3 separate regions of the Homo sapiens genome follow, and all the other regions are linked to region 1. Evidence: fine-mapped expression QTL. A gene starts in region 1. Each other region holds a variant in brackets. All regions are shown on one strand. Distances are from middle to middle. Region 1 holds the start of DMRT3 (doublesex and mab-3 related transcription factor 3). Region 2 overlaps DMRT1 (doublesex and mab-3 related transcription factor 1). Region 3 has its middle 24 kb from the start of DMRT3.

Region 1 (4,240 bases):
GTGTAGGTACCAGTTTTGCCACAGTTCTACTTACAGGAGGGCTCTGGACCTTCCCACTCCTAATTCCAGCATGCCCCCTTCCGGGAGAAGGTGGGCTGTGTTCCTTTGCACATTTGCCCCAGTTAAGGAGAAACACCAAACACATATCCACTGAATTCCAAGAGCCATCAAAAGAGCTCTTGAGCTGGGCAGAACCGCAAGCTAGAAATTCCCCAGGAAGAGAGAGACTAAGAGACTCAACTCAGGCCTGCCAAGCTCAGGAGGCCTGGATGGAAACGGATGGGTGGTGGGGGATCAGATTTTTTGTATTCCTTTAAACCACGAAGACAGCTGAGGGCAGCCTGGGGAACAGTGTTAAAGGATCTAGGAGGTTCTGCAAAGGAGTGAATTCTGGGCGCATCAGATTCTTTTCCCGCTATCAGCTCACAAGCCTTTCCGGACCCTTTTACTATCATTGCTAAATGGAACTTATTTCACCAGTTACAAGAGTCTGGAGGCCACGGAGCAAAGCTAGAAAGGCCAGGGTTCTGAGAGTTGGATACTTGTCCTCACTCAAATTTTCCTGGGCCCTGGGCAGGGCCGGGCCGGCCGAGAAGCACAGCCAGCTCGACTCAGCCGAGTGTTGGCCTTGGCTCCTTCCCTACACCTACCTACCCATTCCAACCCCCAAATGGCAAGGACCTCTAAAGCCTGCAGCCAGGAAAATCCGACCCCACCGTAGTGAGTGTGCGCACGTGGGTTTTAATTTTGTCCTGTCTCAACTCCGTTGTCTCCCTGCTCAATCTGACACGTTCCGAACCCTTCAACCTGGGAAGGCACCTGGCGATACTGACGCACAGTCCCGTCGTTTGGCTGCCCGGAGGCGCCTTCCCTGCGGGCGCGAGTGCCACTCGCGCTGGGTCCAGACTCAGCCGGCTTCTCCCGGGAGAGGAAGCCCCGGCCTGGCGGAGAGTAGGAAGGAAAGCCCCGACAGGCCCACGTCCCAAAACTTTGCCTCCAGTCCTCCCAAGTGGAGCTGCAGCTGGCACTCCGAAGTTGCCCCCGCGCCCGGCCAAACTCCCGCACCTCAGACGCTCTTACCTGGCTTGGCGAGCTGCGCCTGCAGAGCCCCGGGCTGCGGCTCGGCAGTCCAACGCAGCGCGGCGGCCGCGGCCAACTCGGCAGCAGGGCGCGGCGGCTGCGGCTGCGACGGCTGAGAGGCTGGCGGCGGCTGCGGGGCGGCGACGGCGTCCCCCGGCGGCGGGGGCCCTGGCAGAGCGCGCAGCGAGTCGGGGATGAGGCTCTCCAAGCTCTCGTTGGCCTGCTGCCGGCGCAGCGCCACCTGCGCAGCCATGACCCGCTGCCGCTCGATGATGAGGATGCACTTCTCGCAGGTGCAGTCCTTGAAGCGGCAGTAACGCTTGTGGCCCTTGAGCCAGGACAGGACGCCATGGTTGCGGCAGCGCGCGCACTTGGGCGTGCGCTGCAGGGGCGCCCGTGGCGGCTGCGACACCGGGCCGCCCATGTACAGGTAGGGGGAGCCGTAGCCGTTCATGCCCCGGGCTCCCGAATGAGTTGGCAGCCTGGCTGCGGGAGAGGGCCAGGGAGCGCTGGACGGCGGGGCTGCGAGGCCCGCTCAGGGGCGGCCTCCGGGCGACGCGGCCCTTGGTCCCGCAGCCCCGGTGGTCGTGTGTGCTCCGGGGCGGCCGGAGGTGCCGCAGTCGTCTCTCCAGCTCCCTTCGCGCTCACAGCTCGGCCTCCCAGCTCACGCCCAGCCAACGCCGACGCGGGCCTCTGCCTTGGGCGCGCAGCCGGGTCGGCACGTCCTCCTTCGCGGAGGCGCTGCGGCGGCTGCAAGGAGCCGGCGACAGCTCTGATTAAGGTCTGAGCCAGCTCTTCTGCAGCTCCCTCGTGAGCCGGCCGGACCCAACACCTCCGCCGCCCTCCCCCAACCCCTCCTCCTTCCCACCGCCACCCCCGCCCCTGGGGTCCCTGTCTCCTTGCACTCCCCGCCCCACGCCTTCCTCCTCCTTTGCGCCCCTCGGGTGCCTGCACTTCACCTTCCTTGCCACCTGCAGCCAGGCCACTCTCGCGGGGGCGCTCGCGGCCCCCTCCTCCAAGCCCTCTCCGCTACCCCAGCCCGCGGCTGGAGACTGCGGCGCTCCAGAACGCGGCGGTGCTCGCGGGGCGGAGAAGGGGAGGACCAGCGGGAGTGAGGGTGGGGGTGCCTGTAAGCGAGTGAGGTGGCCGCTCCGCTTCTCTCTCTTCTCCTCCCTCCAGTCCAGATCTGGCCGCGTTTTTCCGAGCCCAAGGCCGCTTTTATCCCGACATTTGGCCGCAGAAGCTCAGCTCCGGGAGAACTCGAACCTACGGGAGTGTTGCGGTTGCACCCCGGACCTGGGTGGAGTTTAGGATAGGGGAGTGAAGTGATGTTGGTTTAGGAAAGTTAGGCTCTTTTCGTAATTTCCTTTTAGAACGTATTTTTTTCTCTTTTGTTGCTTTAGAAGAAAATGGTTTTGGAGATCTGCCGGCCCAAGGATGACAAGCCATTTTGCAGGCGAATTTTACTTTTCTACCCTCCTGTCCATGTTTTAATATAAAACAGTATCCTGAAAGGTCAGGGACGTACGTGCTCCTGTAAAGGATTTGTTAAGCGCCGGGTATAAACTTTCAAGGGGCAGACACAGAAGCCACATTGGCGCCCCCAAAGTTACCGATATCCTCTTCCCTCGCTCCCAGCAGCTACTGGAAGCAAACGGAGGTCTTGCGCCAGCCACTCAGTTCAAATCCCCACGGATTCTGTGATTCAGTTATGGATATGGGATGGGGCCACTTTTTCACCTCCTTAACCCATAGACCCCAGTCATAGATGTCTTGGGGGAGAGGGTCCTTCACAAGATGACAGCAGAAAACTTTGTTTAGATTATTTGCGTGTTCCCATTCTCCCAGGAGTAGCGGGCTTGGCCTAGTGCAGACTATCGCTATATATGCACAAAGAAGGCCCTCCACCCTCGCACCTCCCCACTGCCCATCAGCAAACAAGCAAAAACCAAAAAACAAACAAACAAACAAAACAAGTGGATACACTGCAGGGCAGCACAATAGCTCTATGCGAAGCGGGGCAGTTCCAGAGCCTTCGGTGGATGCGCTTCTGAGAGCGTGCACCAAGCCCATCTCCTGGTGGGGAATCAAATGCTAGATGAGAGCGTAGGCAAGTCCGCTGCAATGTCCGACCCCTCATGGGCACAGAGGCCCTTGTCCCCTCGGGGAGGCCGCTTTTCTCTGTACTGCCCTGGAAGTAAGCAAGCAACCTGAAAACTTTCCTCTGGTGTTTGCCATGAATTCAAGGGAAGCACCTCCAGGCGTTCTAGCAGCCAACCCTCTGCCCAGAAGGCTGATTTGCGGAGAGGAGGGTTGAAAACCGAACCCCAGTTGTGTGTTTCCCTTGAAGCCCTTAGCTGTTCCCGTTTCATACGCGTCCGGGAGGTGGGGATCGCGGGACACTGACCTGGTAGAGTGTGGACAAGAAGCTCTAGCATTCGAGTGCTAACCCTGGGAGGCCATCCTCCAAAGCCGCGTGGGGTAGGGACCCCTCGGTCTTGCCCCTTCCCCCACCACTTTAATCCTTCCTCTAGTCTCAACCTTCTCTAGGAAAACAAGCCCTAAAATACAACTGGAAGGAATTTTGTAAGCTCTGGGGACGGGAGGCAGAGGTCGCCCCCAGCCCTGTAGGCCCGAGGCTAGGAAATGGGGAGCTGGACGCGAGTCATTTAACGTGCTGCGATATAGAGGGCCTCAAATGACACCTTAACTGAAAACTATTGCGCTGAAACCTCCGGATCTCTTGGAAACGTGGGGACCAACGACTTTTTTCAAAACCAAATTTCTTCCGATTTTCTTCAAACAGTGAAACGAGGAAGTATAAAGAACTTGAGTATGAATAAATTTTTAAAAGGAAAGCAGAAGAGCTCTGCACCAGGTTTGTGGGGGCACTTTCACTACCAAGGCGACCCCTTTTCCCCCGTCGGTCACCTAGCCACCCTATCTCGTTGCCACTCAAACAGTCTGGCATTTGGTCCCGGGGGCCCGTTTCACTCCGGTGCACATCGGGGGCTGAGATCTAAATACTCATTTGATATAGTGCAGTAATCCTTTTCTCATATTTGATGGGAATGTTTTCCATATCCCAGTATTTGACAACATCTCCCTATAGGGACAGGTTTGTATTTATGTTGGTAAAATGTCCCCTGCCTCAAAGTCT
Region 2 (4,240 bases), 63 kb after region 1:
GTCGGTGTCTGTTCCCTGCAGCAAGAACAGGAGTCTGAGATCTGAATTCTGGAGGTGATTTGGCTTCTGCTAACTGGACACATGGGGCAGAGCAAAACTCGGAAGGCAGTAAGGAGGCACAAGCGCCCCTCCAGTGGCAGCTGCATGTGAGCACAGCAGTCATTCATTTTTTTCCGGCAACCAGACCCTGCCTTTAGGACCATGAGATAGCTTTTATATAAGAAGCAGTTCATTCCCTGTGGCTTCCTGATTCTCATTCAAAGCTAAGAAGATATGACTTGATGGCTTAGAAAGGGCCCCCCCTCCATTTCCACTTTCCTGGCCCTGATGACTCTGATTGTGTAAGACCCACTTCCATGAACATCTAGACCCTGTTAGAGACACCGAGCATTCAACTCATGATCACATCTTCACGGCAACAACAGAGCTGGACTTCAGTTATTTATGACAGTCTTTTAAAACTTAAATTTAGATGGTACTCGCTTTTAAACAAAATTCGATCTAAGGGAATGTTCAAGATAAACCAATTCTGTCCAGAAATATGAGTAATTTCAAAATAATCCAAAATAATTCAAAATCATGTTTTTCAATCAAGTATTTTAAATGGTACTTGAAAAAGAAAATAGCACTAACTTGACAGAGCCTGGTAGTGTAAAATTAGGCACTGGGCTTCCTCAAGATTTTCTATGAACATCTACATTCTGGACAATTCACCAACTAACACTGGCTTAAGTGTACTTTGGGTATTATGGTGCTGTTTGGTAGAAAGAGCTAAGTCCCTGATTTCTGCCTGATGCTTTGAGCAGCTCAAGGAATTTATTTTTGATCTCTACTGCTCTCAAGCTCAAATCTATGTTCTCATGAGTGGATTACTTCTTCTGGAGAAGCAAAGATACCATTACAGGTGATTATTTCCTCTCAAGTGAAGTTTACCTGGGTAAGTCCCCTTTATCCTTTCTAGTTTGTTTTTCTGAAGTATATGAAATGGTGTCTCTTCTAGGCCAATCACTCCGTTTTCACTTTCTACCATTACATTAAATCTTTTTTTTTTTTTTTTTTTTTTTGAGACAGAGTCCCACTCTGTCGCCCAGGCTGGACTGCAGTGGCATGATATTGGCTCATTGCAAGCTCCGCCTCCCAGGTTCACGTCATTCTCCTGCCTCAGCCTCCCGAGTAGCTGGGACTACAGGCGCCCGCCACCATGCCTGGCTAATTTTTTGCATTTTTAGAAGAGACAGGGTTTTACCGTGTTAGCCAGGATGGTCTCGATCTCATGACCTCGTGATCTGCCCGCCTCGGCCTCCCAAAGTGCTGGGATTACAGGCGTGAGCCACCGCGCCTGGCCACATTAAATCTTTACTAAATAGAAGGTTAAAGAAGCTATACTCGGAAAACAGCCAAAAAGGAAAAACTGGCTACCCCTAATAAATAAGACCACACAGCAGAAGAGCCCATTAAGAAGCCACTAAACCATTTAAGAGAAAAGGGACAATCATGGTAGCTGTTTACTACACACACCCAGTTATCAATTAGAGCACTGCAGCATCTTTTGATGATTCCCAGCAGCTCTCAATGCGCATATGAATGGCCAGGGGGTCCTGTTAAAATGCAGGTCCTGATGGTAAGACTGGGCTGGAGATGCTGATATTGCTGGTGCCCAGGGACTAGAATACGTGATCCTTCCTCTCATACTTAGTACCTCTCAGAACCCAAGACCAAAGGAAACCCTTTAAAAAAAATTGTTTGAGACCGAGTCTCACTCTGTTGCCCAGGCTGGAGTGCAATGGCACAATCTCGGCTCACTGCAACCTCTGCTTCCTGGCTTCAAGCGATTCTCCTGCGTCAGCCTCCTGAGTAGCCTACTCTACAGACATGCCCCACCACGTC[C/T]GGCTAATTTTTGTATTTTTAGTAGAGACGTTTTCTCCATGTTGCCTAGGCTGGTCTCAAATTCCTGGCCTCAAGTGATCCGCCCGCCTCGGCATCCCAAAGTGCTGAGATTACAAGTGTCAGCCACTGCCCCAGCTTAAAAAAAAAAAAAAATTACCAGTTGCTTACAACCATCCAGTTTCCAGCTGAACTGGAAAAGTGAAACTATGTAAATAGCAATTTTTAATTTTCATTCTTTTTTTATTTTTATACACAAAATTCCCCAGAACTAAAAGATTTTTTTCAGGGGTCTGTTGCCATCTACAACTGCTGCAGCAGTAAAAACTCAAACACACTTTGAATTGAAAAGCCATTTGTGTCTCCATAGACTTCCTTAAGTCAATTACACAGTCTGAGTAGTGAACACTGAATTAGAAGCAAGGTGCCGACATAAGCCGTAATATAAATAATGGAGCCTCCCTGCTCTGGGGGCTGAGTTTGTCACATCTACTTCAGGTTTGACAATATCTTCAAGCCAGTTCTTCAAGGAAAATGCTTTTCAATTTTGCCAGGGTACAAGAAAACAGATAGGATTTGGGCCTAAATGCTCTGCAAAATGCTGGATGTTTTTTTTACTATGAAAGTTTACACAAACCTTCCTTTCAAAATGTTTGAAAAATGTTGATCATGAGTCTATAGCAGGTGTCAGCAAACTTTTTATTGTAAATGTCAAACAGTATATATATTTTAGGCAAGCCATACAGTCTCTAGCAATTTGTAAAATGAATGGGCATGGCTGTGTTCCAATAAAACTTTATTTGTAAACAGTGGCACTGGTTCCTTCTCAAACTTCACTCTCACTGGAGTAAGGTGAGAAGGGAACTCAGTACTGATGCCTGGACTCCACTCAAGAAAATCTGGTTTAACTGCTCTGGGATGTGGCCTGGGCCCTGGATATTTTCAAAGATCCCAGTTAATTCTAATATGACACCGAGATTGAGAACCAGTGCTCTACAATTACCAACATATCGTCCATATACCTTGGAAGTACGAGATCCCAACAATCCCCTATATTAACTAAAACAGGCTAAATCTGACAAATAGACTGGCTAACGCTGCCAATCCCAATGTATGTATTATTTGACAAAAAGATGAAGATGAACAGTAAAATTCTTTTTTTTAACTAACGCTTACTGGAAAATAAACACAATTTCAAATCCATGCGTGTGCTTATTTATTCCCTTAATTCCTTTTCCATGTTTTCCAAAAGCATGAAATAAAAAGAACTATTAGGAAATAGGAATTTAGTTATTTATATTCAAACATTCACTATCCTTAATGAATCCCCAAGATCACTGAGCTATAAAAGAATTCCAGTAAAAGAAGAAAAAGATACAAAGGGTCAGACTCCATTTGAGGTTACTAGAATGTGAACTGATATGGTTTGGCTCTGTGTCCTCACTCAAATCTCATCTCACACCGTAATCTCCACGTGTCAAAGAAGGAACGTGGTAGGCGGTGGTGATTGGATCATGGGGGCGGTTGCCCCAATCTGTTCTCATGATATGGAGGGAGTTCTCTTGAGATCTGATGCTTTAAAAGTGTTTGGCAGTTTCCCCTGTTCTCTTTCTCCTCTCTCCTGCTGCCTTGTGAAGAAGAGAAGGTGCCTGCTTCTTCTTCGCCTTCTGACATGACTGCAAGTTTCCTGACGCCTCCCCAGCCATGCGGACCTGTGAGTTAATTAGACCTCTTTTTTTATTTATAAATTACCCAGTCTTGGGTAGTATCTTTACAGCAGTGTGAGAACAGACTAGTACATGAACTTACTGAGGTCATCAGTCACTTCAGCTACATCCACCTCAAAGAATCCACAAACAACCCATCCACGTGACAACTTGCTCATAAGAAGAAAAGGACAGTTCTATGTGTTTCTAAGTGCATGTGTAGCAATATAAACAGGATGTTAAAACTGCAATTCATGGATGGGCGCGGTGGCTCACGCCTGCAGTCCCAACATTTTGGAAGGCTGTGGTGAGTGGATCACCTGAGGTCAGGAGTTCAAGACCAGCCTGACCAACATGGTGAATCTCCGTCTCTACTAAATACAAACAATTAGCTGGGTGTGGTGGCAGGCGCCTATAATCCCAGCTACTTGGGAGGCTGAGGCAGGAGAATCGCTTGAACCCAGGAGGCAGAGGTTGCAGTGAGCTGAAATTGCACCACTGCACTCCAGCCTGGGCGACAGAGTGCGACTCCATCTAAAAAAAAAAAAAAAAAAAAAAAAAAAAAAAAAAAAAAAAATGCAATTAACCCAGAAAAAGGCATGGCAGAATGCAATTTCAAACTAAATTACTTCCTGCTCTCTTCTAACTTT
Region 3 (4,240 bases), 25 kb before region 1:
GCTGGGTGTGGTGTTGGGCGCTCATAATCCCAGCTCCTTGGGAGGCTGAGGCAGGAGAATTGCTTGAACCTGGGAGGCAGAGGTTGCAGTGAGCAGAGATCGAGCCATTGCACTCCAGCCTGGGTGACAAGAGCGAAACTCTGTCTAAAAAAAAAAAAAAAAAAGCTATTATCATCAGGAAGGAAACATAGGATTTGGAACTACTTAAAGCTCAACATATCTGTAGCATCTGTTCTGCTTGACAGCAGTCAGTCATCTTAAAGGTCAAGCCAGTGTATCTACAGACCACACCATGTGACCACTCTGAAGAATGACAGAATGTAGGATTTTGGAACTGAAAGGGCTCATGTCCCTGTGGTGTCACCTCTTAGTTTCATTGTATGCTTTTCTCCACAGCTTCCCAGGCATGCAGAAAACTCTACCTCCTAGCCCTTTCCTCTAAGTGAAGCCATGGCACTGGATCCAGCCAATGAAATGTGAGCAGAGGTGAGGCCCTGGAAAGCCCACCAGCACACCCTCCCCTGCCAGGAAAACCACGTGTGGAAATGGTCAAGCCACAGTAAAGAAGGAAACTAAAGCCAGAGTGGCTGTAATCCCAGCATTTTGGGAGGGCAGATCGCCCAAGGTCAGGAGTTCAAGACCAGCCTGTCCAACATGGTGAAACCCCGTCTCTACTAAAACTATAAAAAACTAGCCAGGTATGGTGGTGCATGCCTGTAATCCCAGCTACTCAGCAGGCTGAGGCAGGAGAATCATTTGAACCTGGGAAGCGGAAGTTGCTGTGAGCCGAGATCATGCCACAGCACTCCAGCCTAGGCGACAGAGTGAGATTCTGTCTCAAAAAAAAAAAGGAAACAATTCTTGTGTCACTGCCTAAAGAGCTGCCAAACCCATGGCAGATTCTGCACGGGTTAAAGTTTTAAAATAAACCTTTATGTGTTAAACCACTGAAATTTTGGAGTGTGTTAGTGAAGTGTAACCTAGGCTACCCCACCCAGCCCTTACTGGCTTTAAAGGCATTCCTATTTTCAGCAAGGTTACAGGAGCTTACAAAATGGTTTTGCTTTTAGAGGGAATTTGACCCATGTGGTGTGATGAAACCAGTTAGCTTTCAGGCAGGCCAGAACTTACAGGCTGTTTGTAACATATGTCATTTGCTTGGGTAGACAGATCTTTGAAAACATCGGGTCCATGTGCTCGCTTCAGCAGCACACATACCAAAATCGGAATGACAGAGAGAACATTAGCGTGGCCCTGAGCAAGGATGACTCACAAATTTGTGAACCATTCTATAAAACAAACAAACAAGCAAAAACTGGAACCACAGTGGCATAAGGTTGACAAAACAGAACTTTTGGTACAAAAAAGTTGGGAAACATGGATAGTTGTCCCCTTGTTTTAGGGATGAAAATAGAGACCCTGGGAGAAGCAAGGGACCTGTCCCAGGTCACATGTAAGCCTTATAAGGAGCAAGTCTCCAGGTCAGACGTCGAGGGTGAGGGGTAAAGAGCCCTCCTGCTTTAGATCAGCCTGGTCAGGCTCAACAGGCACTCAGGGATTCCAGCACCCCAAAAAAAGTTCCTCCCTGTTCTAGGGAAAATTTTAGGGAATTGAATACCCTACATGGATCTGTCCCAAATTCAGCTACAGGAAAGAAGCACAAATGAGTGAGACCAAGACAGGGAACATCTAATTTGTTTCCATACGATATTGACAGATCTTCCACCTTTTCCAGAAATGCCTAAACACTCGGTGCATACGTGAGATCTCTGGATTTTTCAATGTTGGCAATTACTTGAAAATGAAAACAAAAACTCTGTACTAATCAAACAAAATACACCTGAGGGCTGGATTAGGCCTTCAGCCCATTTTGTTACCACTTCAGCTTTCCTGTTTTCTTAACTGCAGGGACATGACC[G/A]AGGCGACAGCTATAGTCATACCACAGACACATCGCTTCCGGTAGGGTTACAAGATTTAGCTAACAAAAACATAGGATGCCCAGTTGAATTCAACTTTGGATAAACAATGGATAATTTTTTAGTATAAGTATGTATAGGCCATACATATATTGTAGAGCATAATTATGTCCAGGGAATATTATATAAGTATTATATCATATGCTACATGTATCAGTATTATATATTATACTTACATACTATTCCCTGGACATAGTTATATATATATATACACACACACACACACACACACACACACACATAAAAATATATACCTATACAAATTCAGCCTGGGACATCCTTATGATAAAAAATTATTCACTGATTATCTGAAATTCAAGTTTAACTGGTGTCTTATATATGGACCAAGACAGTTGATTAATGAGCTCTTCCTTCTTTGGCGCTAATTTATCAGGAAAACTGGAAAACAAAGGTATCTGGGTCCAGCTAGGCTCAGAACAAGTCACCAAAGCTCTGGTGTGTGAATAACTGTATGCGATGCTGTAGGAAGGACTTGATCCCACCCACAGAGTGGCTACTCTCCTGGGCAAATGGCCACTGGAACCCGCTGTCTGGTCAGGCTTGCCTGGCTTCCTTCCAGTTGGGAGGCCTTTAGGCCACAACGGGAATGCATTTTATTCTCCCTATCCCTTCTACTCACTGAGGGTCAAGCCCACTACCTATGGGTGTATCCTCTGCAGGCCGCGCTGGCTTTTGCAGTGCCCTTTCCTCTCCCTGCCATAATAGCTGCAGCAGATGCTGGTGCTCCCAGGCACAGGTGGGCTCACTTCCCTTGTCCTCCAAACACTCATCATGCCCGTGCTTCTGGTGGGGGCCGGAGCTAATGGATCTCAGCTGAGGTTGCTCCAGGCCTCCCTCCCACCCCTTGGGAGAGGGAGGCCAGCTCAGAAACCACAATCCTCCCTCCTTCCTGTAGACTTAACTATCTCACCTTGTCCGCCCTGCTCCCCGGTGGAGCTGCAGAGGATATTCCTTTCAACCGGGAAGCCAAGCAGAGATCCCAGATGCCACCACCCACCTCGATCCACCCCCATATGGTGGCATAGGTCAGTGCCATGATTGGCCAGGGTCAGAGCTGTACCACCGAACGTGCTGAAAGCCCCGCTTTGCCCAAAGAGAGTCTCCGTCTTCACTTCTCCTTTCTTCCTCTCTTCCTCCTCCTCCTTCAAAGGCACACTTGTAAGGCAACTGGGTCCTCCACCCACAGTTCAAAATGCTTACTGACTGGGTCTCACTCTGAGTTTAAAAAAAGAAAAATTCTCTTTGGGTAATTTTTCTTTTAATTGATCGAACCAATCCATAACTATGAAGGGCAAATAACTGTCCTTGCACCCCAAGCCCTGTGGGGATGATGTAGTTAGTATTAATAGTTGCTGCTGATCACTGATGTTAACCACCCCCCACCCCCAGGAGCCTTATTACAATGATTTGGACAAATTCACATGTGCTTTTACCCTGAGAGAGTGTTTTATTCACCTGGGTGGGTAATTTACAGATGAGCAATATACTTCAAGTATTACAACTAGATTTGTCTTTTCCTCCTTCACTGGAGGGCCTGAGTTCTCTAAGGCTGTTCCCTGGACAGGAGTGGACTTCAAGGTTCTCATTGCAATTGTGGATTCCTGGGAGGGAGGGAGATATCCCCTCCCAGAAGTTCTGGTTGAGAAGGTTTAAAGATGGATTAAGAATCTAAATTGTTTGAACAGACACTTCAGGGGATTCCAGATCCAGTGAGTCATAGGCGCCCCTTGGAGAAACTATGGCTGAAATGGTTTTCCTGGCATTCTATTATTTGCCTAGCAGTTTTAATAAAGTTGGGTCTTAACATTACATTTCCTCCATGGCGGCATTAGATAATTCATATCTGAGTTTAATCCGCAAGCCGTGGTCAACACACATGCATGTCATCAGCCAGGCTGAAACTTCTAGGAGGGTCTCAGCGACCCATAGGCTAGGGGCTTCTTGGAGATCCCCTGCCGGTCCTGCGCCGTGGGGTGGGAGGATGTGAATCCCATGGTCTGTAGTCACAGCTGTCCTGGGAGAGGGATCCTTGAATTTGAGTGAAATAAAATATAGCAAAGATATCTTTGAAATACCCTCACATCTTTCTGGTTTGGCCGAGAGATGAATGAGGAGGACTAACAGGCGGAGGGAAAACGCCGACTTCACGCATTTACCTCCACTAGCCTCCAGGGGGCAGCAGAGCCGGGAAGAACATTCACGCAGGCGGCTCCGGGAAACGGAAGGAGGGAAAACGCCGACTT

Evidence for each region. PIP is the estimated chance that this variant, and not a neighbour inherited with it, causes the effect.
Region 2: its variant is fine-mapped to the expression of DMRT3 in thyroid (GTEx, PIP above 0.99).
Region 3: its variant is fine-mapped to the expression of DMRT3 in thyroid (GTEx, PIP above 0.99).

What each region holds. Positions count from the first base shown.
Region 1 is chr9:974,296-978,535 of GRCh38, reverse strand. It overlaps DMRT3 (doublesex and mab-3 related transcription factor 3), which reads right to left and starts at 1,881. Exons shown (of 2, transcript NM_021240.4): 1 at 1,081-1,881. The coding sequence starts at 1,534. RefSeq lists enhancers at 1,714-2,213, 2,214-2,715, 3,248-4,240.
Region 2 is chr9:911,398-915,637 of GRCh38, reverse strand. All of the region lies in intron 3 of DMRT1 (doublesex and mab-3 related transcription factor 1), which reads right to left. Among named protein-coding and RNA genes, the nearest start is that of DMRT3, 63 kb to the left of the region's middle. The variant C/T (reference allele first, on the strand shown) is at 1,888.
Region 3 is chr9:998,917-1,003,156 of GRCh38, reverse strand. It overlaps the pseudogene RNU6-1073P. Among named protein-coding and RNA genes, the nearest start is that of DMRT3, 24 kb to the right of the region's middle. The variant G/A (reference allele first, on the strand shown) is at 1,919.